Linked DNA regions of Homo sapiens. The protein of the gene in region 1 purifies or fractionates together with the protein of each later gene. This does not show direct contact. Each region holds a gene or a part of one and is shown in the gene's direction. Other genes may lie near its edges. The genes, in order: KLK12, RABL6 and NEMF.

Region 1 (4,197 bases):
GCATGCACCACCACACTCAGCTAATTTTTGTATTTTTAGTAGAGATGGGGTTTCACCATATTGACCAGGCTGGTCTTGAACTCCTGGCGTCAAGTGACTTGCCCGCCTCGGCCTCCCAAAGTGTTGGGATTACAGGCGTGAGCCACCGCGCCTGGCCCTGACTGCTTTTCTCTTGGTTTGTTTCTCAATCCCCCTTCCTCTGAGCCGAATTCCCTTTTTGTTCTCATTTTCTCTCTCTGTCCCCTCTCTCTCTCCTTCTTTCTCTCCTTCCATTCCTCCTAGATGAAGCAAAAACTCAGATAAACCAGCACAGAGGCCAGGTATGGTGGCTCACACCTGTAATCCCGGCACTTTGGGAAGCCAAGGCAGGCAGGTTGCTTGAGGCCAGGAGTTCAAGACCAGCCTGGCCCACATGGTGAAACCCCGTCTCTACTAAAAATACAAAAATTAGCCGGACATGGTGGCACGTGCCTGTAATCCCAGGTACTCAAGAGGTGGAGGTTGCAGTGAGCGGAGATCACAGCCCTGCACTCCAGCCTGGGTGACAGAGCGAGACTCCATCTCAAAACGAAAAACAAAAAACAGCACAAAGTTCCCTTGTCCTGTGACTCATTCTCTCTCTCTCTTTCTACCATTTCTCCTTCCCTGTGTCTTTTTTTTTTCTCTCTGTGGGTTTTATTTAAGCAATAGAAGTTCTTAGCAAAGAAAAACTTTATGGAATTAGATTGATCCACTTCATATGTACATATATGAACTCAGTTCAGAAACTCTCTTCTACCCCTGCCTGATCACCTATTTGGAAGTCTGTTCCTTCAACTCTTCTTCTCTTTCTGGGACTCTTTCTAGCTTGGGCTTCCTGCCCCTCCCGTCCACTCTCCTGCTTTCACAGCCTCTCCTTCCCCCTGCCCCTCCCCTGCACTGCATGGGGATGGGCCCCAGGTGTCCAAGGTCTCCCCACCCTCCTTTGTCACTGGAGTCAGGATTAGAACCCAGCTCCCTAGTCACCTTGAGTCATCAGTCCTGGGGCTGCTGACGGGCTTGCAGAGGAGAGAGGGAGTGGGGCTGGGTCTTCCCACCCTGGGTCCTTTCCTCCTTCCCCACTCCGTTTAGCTGTAAAGCTCAATTAAGTGTGATTAGCTGAGAAGAGTTTCTGCAGAATTAGAGCACGCCCCACCCCTGTCTTCGTGGTCCCCTTCCCTTAACCCGGAAACTGGATGGGCCAGGACAAAGAGAGTTAAGAGCTTTGTCAGTGGTCTGTCTGGAGCGACAGATGGAAGGAAAGGGACCGGTTGAGCAACATGACAGGTGGCTGAGGAGCCAGGTGCAGAGTGGTAGAGTTGGCTGGCGGAGTGGCCAGCACATGAGAAGACAGGCAGGTAGGTGGACGGAGAGATAGCAGCGACGAGGACAGGCCAAACAGTGACAGCCACGTAGAGGATCTGGCAGACAAAGAGACAAGGTGAGAAGGAGGTAGGCGACTGCCAATGAGGGAGTGACACACAGGGGAGCAGGTAGAGAGAGGACAAGCAGGTCATCCCCTTGGTGACCTTCAAAGAGAAGCAGAGAGGGCAGAGGTGGGGGGCACAGGGAAAGGGTGACCTCTGAGATTCCCCTTTTCCCCCAGACTTTGGAAGTGACCCACCATGGGGCTCAGCATCTTTTTGCTCCTGTGTGTTCTTGGTGAGTTCTCCCGGAGCAGGGAGAGGGCAGGACTGCGACTGGATCCCTTCACCCCCATGAGGAGGCCCCACCACCCTCCCCATCTCAGCTCTGGCCCCCAGCCTGGTGGTGAGGAGGAGAGGGGCTTTCTCTGTGCCTCCATTTACCTGCAGCTCTCAGGGTACTGCTCACCTCGGTCTCCCCTATTTTTTGATCCCTCTTCCCTTCTGTCCCTCTCTGAATCTCTGTCTCTCCATTTCCCTCCTATGTGTAAGCATCTTTCTCCCTGGGTGTCTTTGATGTTTCATGGTCTTTTTCTATCACTGGGTCTCTCTCTCTTTCTCTCTCTTTCTCGTCTCTCTTTCTCCTCTCTCTCTCCTGCCTGTTTCTCTCTCTCACTCTGTGTGTCTCTCCATCTCTGTATCTTTTCTTCCTCTCTCTGACCCATGCCCCTGTCTGTCTCCAGGGCTCAGCCAGGCAGCCACACCGAAGATTTTCAATGGCACTGAGTGTGGGCGTAACTCACAGCCGTGGCAGGTGGGGCTGTTTGAGGGCACCAGCCTGCGCTGCGGGGGTGTCCTTATTGACCACAGGTGGGTCCTCACAGCGGCTCACTGCAGCGGCAGGTAAGTCCCTTCCTGGGGTGGGCGAAGGGAGGACTATGGGAAGGCAAGCGCTGGGGGTAGGATCACAAGGGAGGGTGGTGCCCACTGGGAAGAAGCTGATCCTGCAACAAGAGAGTCTGAGGTTAGACCAGGAGTGGAACTTCCTTAGCAGTGGGCCTGGGGTGGTGCTGGGCAGGGTGAGGTATGTTGGGTGGAGGGCCGGGGAGGGTCCTGGAACCTGCCCTCCTGCCTCTCCCATTCCTGCATGTACCCTTTCTTTCCTATATGACATCTGCCACTCACCCCAGCCATTCCTTGACCCAGTCTGGGCCCGGGGCCCAGGTCTCACCCAAGCTCTTTTTCTTTTTCTTTTTTTTATTTTTTTGAGACAGGGTCTCGCTCTGTCGCCCAGGCTGCTGTGCAATGGCGTGATCACAGCTCACTGCTGTCTCTGCCTCCCAGGTTCAAGTGATTCTCCTGCCCCAGCCTCCTGAGTAGCTGGGATTACAGGCACCCGCCACCATGCCCAGCTAATTTTTGTATTTTTTGTAGAGACAGGGTTTTGCCATGTTGGCCAGGCTGGTCTCGAACTCCTGGCCTCAAATGACCTGCCCGTCTTGGCCTCCCAAAGTGCTGGGATTACAGGTGTGAGCCACTGCACCCGGCCAACATGACCCAAACTCTTTGTGCAACTTCAGAATCTATGCCTGGCACCTCTCTGGGCCTCAGTAGACTGATGTTCTGGAATTTTTTTCTTTTTCTTTCTTTTTTTTTTTTTTTGGAGACAGAGTCTTGCTCTTTCTGTCATCCAAGCTGGAGTGCAGTGATGCTATCTTGGCTCACTACAGCCTCAACCACCTGGGCTCAAGTGATCCTCACACCTCAGCCTCCCAAGGAGCTAAGACTACAGGCCTGCGCCACCACACCTGGCTAATTTTTAAATTTTTTTTGTAGAGACAGGGTTTTGCTATGTTACCCAGGCTGGTCTCAAACTCCTCAGCTCAAGCAATCTTCCTGCCTTGACCTCCCAAAGTGCTGGGATTACAGGCATGAGCCACTGTGCCTGGCCTGGAACTTTTTTTGTGAAAGGGGAGATCAGATGCAAAGAAACAGAGACTCAGGGAGAGAGAGGGCCAGCAGCAGGATGCAGAGAGGCCATTCATCAACCCACTCGTTCAATCATGAACCCACTCGTCCACGCATGAGCATGGAGGGCACATGCTCCGTGCCAGGCGGTGGGAATAAGGCAGTGAACAAGGTCCACTGATGTCCCTGCCTTCATGGGCTTCACCAGCCGAGAGAATCAGAAAGAGAGGCCTGGCGCGGTGGCTCACACCTGTAATCCCAGCACTTTGGGAGGCCGAGGCGGGCGGATCACTTGAGGTCAGGAGTTTGAGACCAGCCTGACACACATGGTGAAACCTTATCTCTACTAAAAATACAAAAATTAGCTGGGCATGGTGGCATGCTTCTGTAATCCCAGCTACTTGGGAGGCTGAGGCAGGTGAATTGCTTGAACCTGGGAGGTGGAGGTTGTAGTGAGCCAAGATGGTGCCACTGCACTCCAGCCTGGGCGACAGAGCGAGACTCGGTCTTGAAAAAAAAAAAAAAAAAAAAAAGGAGAGAGAGAGACACAGATGCAGGGACATGGTAGGAGAAACAGGGAACACCCAAGATGGAAAGAGGGTGATGGAGGTTGGGAATAAGAGCCTGTAAGAGAGACTCGGAGAATGAGAGTTGCGGGTGAGAGGACAGACAGTGAGGGGCAGAACAGTGGGGAGCGGCAGGAGCGCCTGAGTGTCCGTGGAGGGGTGCAAGGTGGGGGACTGCGTGCCTGCCACCCGCTCAGCCGTCGCCACCGGCAGCAGGTACTGGGTGCGCCTGGGGGAACACAGCCTCAGCCAGCTCGACTGGACCGAGCAGATCCGGCACA
Region 2 (3,645 bases), on another chromosome or scaffold:
GCCACCGCACCCTCTTCCTGGTTTGGGGTGAGGCTGATGGCAGCGTTCATGCCCCTCTGCTCAGGCGACGTGGATGTGATTGGTGTGGGGGCAGATGCCTGGCTGTGTGAGGGCCCCGGGCGTGCCTCTCCCCTCTGGTTCTCCCTTCCCCTTGGAATCCTTGGGTGGGCGGGAGGCTCCATCCATCAGCTCCCCCAGTCCCCAGCACGCCCCACAACAGAGCACAGTCATGGGAGCTCAGGAGGAGTGGTTGGCACCAGCAGGCCCAGCTGCGATGGTGCGGTGTGAGGCAGGCCTGGGGCCTCTCAGGTGGCTCCGAAGGGAGGGTCCGGCCTCCGCCCTCAGTGATTACTTAGATTCTGCTCCCTCAAAGTGAACTAGAGGCCAGTCACTGGATGAAGAAACAGGGTCAGAAGGTGACACAGGCGGGCCCATTCATTCGCACCTGTCAGCAGAAGCGTACTCCATGGGCAAAAACACAGACATCGACCCAGCCAGGAGGGTCCCCTTCCAGTATGCTGAGGCCAGGAGGGGCCGTGCCCAGGATCGGGGCCCGGGAGGGAGGGGCCGTGCCCAGGATCGGGGCCGGGGAGGGAGGGGCCGTGCCCAGGATCGGGGCCCTGGAGGGAGGGGCCGTGCCCAGGATCGGGGCCCGGGAGGGAGGGGCCGTGCCCAGGATTGGGGCTGCGGAGGGAGATACCGTGCATTCAGTTTGTCACTGAAGCTGTGTCTGAGCGAAGGCCTGAAGGAGCCGCCATGTGGTCGTCTGGGGAGGACACATCCCCTGCTTCTGGACACTCGGAAGTCCTGGTGGGAGCCGGTGGCTGCGGGGCACAGACAACCACACCAGCTGGACCGCTTTGTGCCACCTTGGGAACTTCATGTTGGGCACTAATTTTAGGATTCTCCCTGTTTCAGCCACGGATGACATCGTGAAGGTTGAAGTCTGGGATGTAGTAGACAAAGGTGAGGCGTCTCTGTTCTGTGTCTGCTTCTCTCTGGGACTGTGTGCTCTGCGCAGAGAGGCTTCCTTTCTTTCCCCCGGCGCCCATGCATCACCCACCATCCTCGTGGACGGTGCCCAGGGTCTTGCTGCTCTGCTCCCCTCCACATCCAGTGGCGACCCCGCAGCGTGGCGCAGCCCCTCCTGTGGCACTGCATGCTTTGCTGCTTTAGCATACTCCCCGTCTCTGAGTGACCGCGTGCACGGTGGCGGCAGGTGCAGCCGGGGGGTGTGCTTTGAGCCCCAAGGCCCAGGGTGCTATTTTGGGAGCCCTCCTCCTGCACTGCCTGGCGGAGTAGCCCAGCACCAGGCGGCCCCCTGCCCATAGCTGAGGACCCAGCTCCTGCGCTCCTGTCCCTGCCAGGGATCCCCAGCCACACAGACCTGCACTCTGGGGACCGTGGGAGGGCAGCACCAGCCCCCGGGGTGTCCTCGACATCGTTGGTCTCCTCCTCAGCCACAAGGTCATGAGTTCCTCTAAGTCCTCAGGGTGGAGCTCATGGCCCTCCCCGGGGCCCATGGTCCGTGTGCATGTGTGGTGTGTGCAGGGCTGGCCACGTGCACGCCCCGGCCTCACAGGCCTGGCTGTGGCCTCGTTACGAGGCTCTGCTGGAAAGGCGGCCGCCGCCTCTGTGTGATGGTGTCTGTTCGGATGGCGCATGCTCCCCTCCCTCCACCTGTGCTTTGTTGGGGTGGGTTTGGCCATGGGGGGTTAGAGGCAGGTGCTCATGCAGTTCCCGCAGGGGTGCTGGGCCCCTGCGGCTCCCACCACATTGCGCTGGACTCTTGTGGCCCGTGCTGACCTGGTGTTCCAGATGCTGTCTCTGCAGAGCTCTGCGTGGTCTCTGGTGTTAGAGAGGTGGCCACCCACCGCCCTATCATTGTCCTCATCCCCACTGTGAGGAGAAGCTATCAGATCTGCCTGTGGCCCCCAGGTGGCTCAGGAAGGGCCGTCCTGACCCCCATCCTGGCCCCTTTCGGAGCTGCAGAGATTTCCTGTGCCTCCAGCTCTGGCTTCCTGGGTCTGTCCTTGGCGTGGAGCGGGCACAGGCTTCCCGTAGACACGGTTGCCCAGAGTGGGGTTCATAACTGGGCACTGTAAAGGGTGTGGTCTCCACGGCTTAGGATGGGCCCCCCCTTCCTGGTGGCCTGCTGTGCCCGGGGCTGGTGTGGAGGCCTGTGGGTGCAGAGGCCGCCTGGCCCTGGGCTTCCTCTGGGGTTACATGTGTACCCTTGCACCCACCTGTTAGCACCCACCGGGAGAGTCTCACTCAGCCTAAACCAGGGCCCCTCAGGAGGAAAAGGTCCCCAGCTTCATGATGGGGCCCAGTGTGCCTTCCATCCCCGCCCTGACTCAGTGCCCACTGTGCGAGGTGTGAGCACTGTCCACAGCAGCCAGGGCGGCCGGTGGGGAGTGCATTGGAGGGGGTTGAGGTCTCTTGGGCACCTGGTGAGTTCTCAAGGGTGAGAGGAAGCCGAGGCCATCAGGCTTAGCTGACGCTGCATGGGGCAGGCTGCCAAGAGGGAGGCTGAATGGAGCAGCCTCAGGTGAGCCGACAATCCTCACCTCCGCCTGGTCAGCCAGGACCCGGCTCCCCTCCAGTCCCGCCTGCTTTCCCCAAAGCAGATCCAGCCAGTCTCAATGGCTCGCCCGGGGGGTGCTGGTTAGGCTGTGAGCATCCTTCCTGGGTGCAGGCCCCCGACAGCCAGCAGTGCTGTGCTGTGTGTGTGTTGGGGACTCTGCTGAGCCCTTTGTGGCCAGACTGGGGAGGCTCCTCCGGGCTGGCTCTGTCCCCTGTACCTTGTGAGGGAGGGGCTGACCCCCTGACTGGGTTACATCGTGGTGAGCAGTTCAGAAACAAGCTGTGGAATGAAGTGGACGTGGCGTTTTAAACACATGAGCCCCATCTGTTCTTAGGGGTTTTGTTTGTTGTCCCAGTCCGTGACTCCAAGACTGGGACCCCCAGAGTTCCCAGGATGGTCTGGAGCCTTTATCCTCAGGTCAGCATTGTGGAGTTAAAGGGAGGGGACCACGGCCCCTCATTCTCAGGAGAGCCATGGTGACCTTGATGGCGGAGGCTCAGGGGGACCTGGACCGTGGACACCACACAGCTGCCCTCCTCCCTCCCGAGGCCATTTCAGGGCTGGAATCCCTGCCCCCCTCTCCTTTCCTCCCGGGCTGGTTGTTGCCTTGAGAGTCCGTGCGCTCATCTCCCCACTTTTACCCCAGGGGGAGGCCCCTCACCTTCCCACCATATCCCTTGTACTTCCTCCCACCCTGGACTTGGGGGAGCTGGGGGGAGGGGGCCCTTCCTTCAGCAGCAAACCCTCCTGGTGTAGGGCTGTAGGCCATCCCACCGCAGCCTGTCCAGGAGCTGCTGAGCCTGTCAGCCCCAACTAGCACCTCCTGTCCAGGCCCGGCCCAGCCCTGCCTCCAGAGCCTACAGAGGGGCCTCGCCCAGGTCCTGCTGCTCCAGAGCTTGTGGGTGCCCACGCTGCAGGCTGTTTGGGGTGGTGGAGTAGAGCACCCGCTGGAGCTGGGGGCTGAGTGGCCATGGGGGGACCATGCTCCTCCTATGGCCCAAGGCCCAGGGGTTCCACCTCGTAATTTTTGTTTGTTTTTAAATAAGGAAAATGCAAAA
Region 3 (3,645 bases), on another chromosome or scaffold:
GAGCGAGCGCGACTGTATCAAAAAAAAAAAAAAGAAGTAAATCTTTGTTAATTATGAATAGGAATGATTTTAATGTTGCATTTTTGTAGGGATATATCATTCAGAAAAGAGAAATAAAACCAAGCTTGGAAGCAGATAAACCAGTTGAAGACATACTGACGTAAGCATATAGGCATGGGTCAATTTGCTTTGGATGTTTGTTAATGTTCTCGAATGTGATATAATAAATATGTTTTACAGGTATGAGGAATTTCATCCTTTCTTGTTTTCTCAACATTCACAATGTCCATATATAGAATTTGAATCATTTGACAAGGTGGGTTTTCCGTTCTGTTCCTTTACCAGTTAGTTAGCATGATATGAGCTGTTGATATCAACTTGCTTCTATTGAGAAACTGAAACTATACTTGCTTTACATTCACTGTGAATCTGGGCATTAAAGATCAGTGTCGTCACAGATACAGCTGTTGGAAATAATTGTTGCCACTTTATTTCAGGATGAAGGACCAGAGGTTTGAACTTCATTTGATTCTTGATACTGTTTAGCCATATAATACATTTACCGGAAATCTGTTCAAGTTCTTTGAGTGGTGTTATGAAACACAATGGAATCTAAAATTCTGTGTATGCAGCTGGGCTTGCTGGCTCATGCCTATAATCTCAGCATTTTGGGAGGCCAAGGCAGGCAGATCAGTTGAGGTCAGGAGTTCAAGACCAGTCTGGCCAACACAGTGAAACCCTGTCTCTGAAAAACTACAAAAATTAGCGGTGTGTGGTGGGGTGCACCTGTAGTCCCAGCTGTTTGAGAGGCTGAGGCAGGAGAATCACTTGAACCTCGGAGGTGGAAGTTGCAGTGAGCCTAGATCGCGCCACTGCAGTCCCGCCTGGGCAACAGAGTGAGACTCTGTCTCAAAAAAAAAGAAAAAAAAAATAAAATTCTGTGTATGCAAGTTGAAGTAGAGACTGTGCTTTTTTTTCCAACTAGTTGTTTGTTTTTTTAATAAGGCGGTGGATGAATTTTATTCCAAGATAGAAGGCCAGAAAATTGACTTAAAAGCTTTACAACAGGTATGTATTATTAAAAACACATATTAAACCAGCTAGTCTTTAGCGGCTTGATGGGTAGATGATATAGGAAAGGGTAGCCTTTCAGAAAGAGTGTAAGAAGTAGTATGGGAACTCTCTGACCTGCCTCTTTATTTATGATAAAGGTTTATGAAGAAGGTCCATGGGGGATTTTATTGTTGAAAAGTATGTCCTCATTTGTTTCATGAGTATTTCAGATATTCTGTAAAAAAAGGAAAATACGGTGGGAACGTGAGGCCTGTTATTTACACCTTAATGTGGTTTGCTCAGAACAACCCAAAGCTTCTCAAACATTGCTGTTAAGGAGATACTGTTTTAGGGAGATTTTAAATAGGCCAGAGGAGGGGATATTGTTTATCATTAAACTGTTTCTTTTTTAAATGGACTTTAAAGCCAAGTCTTAATATGTTTTCTGTGTATCATGACTCCAAAAGAAGTGATATACAGTATTTTCCCAGCACATTTGACCATGTTTTTAGAGCATTTGCTGCAGAACAGTTTCATAAATTGTTAATAGTCACTCTTGATTTGAAGGGGATTTGATTTTTTCAAAAACAGTCTTAAAATATGTGTGCAAAAATTTCAAATTATTTGAGGCTGGGCGCGGTGGCGCACGCCTGTAAATCCCAGCACTTTGGGAGGCCGAGGCGGGCAGATCACTTGAGGTCAGGAGTTCAAGAACAGCCTGGCCAGCATGGTGAAAACCTGTCTCTGCTGGAAATACAAAAATTAATGGGGTGTGGTATGGGTGTCCAGCTACTCAGGAGCCTGAGGCACAAAAATTGTTTGACCCTGGGAGGCGGAGGTTGCAATGAGCTGAGACTGTGCCACTGCACTCCAGCCTGGGTGACAGAGTGAGACTCTGCCTTAAAGAAAAAAAAATCAAATTGTTTGAATCCCTGTACCACTTCCTCTTCAGTTTTTAAAAATTAGTTAATCATAGCACAATTTCAAAGCAGGTAGGCCAGTCAGATGAATTATATACATCATGTAATTACCACATGGTGGCAGCACTTTGGCTAGTAAACTGAACCCCATGGTTTCATGGGTGTCAAAATACTAGTGATTTATTTTGGTAATTATTTTGTGGGTTTTAATAGTCATCATTCTTATCTAAATTTTAAAAAATATTTCATCTAGCATTTAAATACTCATTAATTGATGATATTACTAGTGTTAGAAATTTTGTCCCCCAATTGATAACCTTGAAATGTAAAGTATATATGATAAAATGCCAAATAACTACCATGAGCCTTTGTCTTATTAATTTAGGGGAAAAAGTTTCTGTAAAATACTGGAAATAGTTGTGAGAAAATCAAAAGTAGCAAAAAATACAAAGTCATTTGGTAATTTATGCTCTTTGGGAATTCATTCCCTGCCAGGTGCAGTGGCTCAGGCCTGTAATCCCAGCACTCTGGGAGGCCAAGGTGGGAGGATTGAGCTCAGACATTGGAGAGCAGCCTGGGCAACATAGCGGGACCCGGTCTCTATTATTTAAAAAAAAATAAAGAATTCGTTCTCCCAAACTTTACTTTTGTGCCATAGGAAAAAATGTCTTGATTTCTGCCTGTTTGAATAATGCCAAGGGTATTAGGGGTATATCTTATATACACAGTAACCTGTAATCAAAATACCTTTCTATATAAGGAGTGGGAGTTAGGAAGACAGGAGAAGTAATTTTGGGGCATGGAACGCATTGTAGTGGGATAGGCCTAGGGTGGTAGACTATGGGAACTTCAGCTAGCTAGATAACAGCATAGATGGGGTCAGGATAGTGAGTGTTGGGAAGTAAGAGAGGGATGTCATGAGGTAGGAGAAATCTAATTTTTAAAAAATCTGTTTTGCCAATAAAAGGAAAAGCAAGCATTGAAGAAATTAGATAATGTTCGAAAGGATCACGAAAACAGATTGGAAGCTCTTCAGCAGGCTCAGGTATTATGTTTGGCTTTCTCAGTGCTTTTTCAAAAATGTTAACTTTAACTGGCAATGTAGTAAATGTGTGTGGTTTGTTTTTTAAGGAAATAGACAAACTGAAAGGAGAGCTCATAGAAATGAACCTACAAATAGTTGACAGAGCCATTCAGGTAGTTCGAAGTGCTTTAGCTAACCAGATAGATTGGACAGAAATTGGGTTAATTGTGAAAGAAGCCCAGGCTCAAGGAGACCCTGTTGCAAGTGCAATCAAAGAATTAAAACTACAAACAAACCATGTTACAATGCTGCTAAGGTAAGTTTGACTCTTAGTCAAGCAGTTAATGCTTGTCTTTATTTTGTTATTTTAATTGTTCACTGTATTAAACATTTTTTCTTCATATTTTGAAATTCTCAAAGAAAGGGAAAAAACTAATTTAGATTAAAATAAATAATGAAACTTCCAGTACTGTAAACCATTTATAATTTTATTGAAGAAGAAAATTGAAAATAAAAGTGATGTCATTGACGTTAGTGAAATGCTATTGAATATTTTTAATAGAAATCCATACTTGTTATCAGAGGAGGAAGATGATGATGTTGATGGTGACGTCAATGTTGAGAAAAATGAAACTGAACCACCAAAAG

The links.
Region 2: the proteins of KLK12 (region 1) and RABL6 purify together in Homo sapiens (affinity purification with mass spectrometry; one large-scale study listed by BioGRID and IntAct). This does not show direct contact.
Region 3: the proteins of KLK12 (region 1) and NEMF purify together in Homo sapiens (affinity purification with mass spectrometry; one large-scale study listed by BioGRID and IntAct). This does not show direct contact.

What each region holds. Positions count from the first base shown.
Region 1 is NC_000019.10:51,032,068-51,036,264, reverse strand, and holds the start of KLK12 (kallikrein-12 isoform 2 precursor), read left to right. Parts: upstream 1-1,262; 5' UTR 1,263-1,459; exon of another isoform or gene 1,460-1,470; intron 1,471-1,624; 5' UTR 1,625-1,643; coding exon 1,644-1,680; exon of another isoform or gene 1,681-1,840; intron 1,841-2,125; coding exon 2,126-2,285; intron 2,286-4,129; coding exon 4,130-4,197.
Region 2 is NC_000009.12:136,824,861-136,828,505, forward strand, and holds part of RABL6 (rab-like protein 6), read left to right. Parts: intron 1-918; coding exon 919-966; intron 967-3,633; coding exon 3,634-3,645. UniProt on the Homo sapiens protein: May enhance cellular proliferation. May reduce growth inhibitory activity of CDKN2A.
Region 3 is NC_000014.9:49,828,722-49,832,366, reverse strand, and holds part of NEMF (ribosome quality control complex subunit NEMF), read left to right. Parts: intron 1-89; coding exon 90-160; intron 161-240; coding exon 241-316; intron 317-1,005; coding exon 1,006-1,068; intron 1,069-2,940; coding exon 2,941-3,018; intron 3,019-3,104; coding exon 3,105-3,313; intron 3,314-3,559; coding exon 3,560-3,645. UniProt on the Homo sapiens protein: Key component of the ribosome quality control complex (RQC), a ribosome-associated complex that mediates the extraction of incompletely synthesized nascent chains from stalled ribosomes as well as their ubiquitin-mediated proteasomal degradation.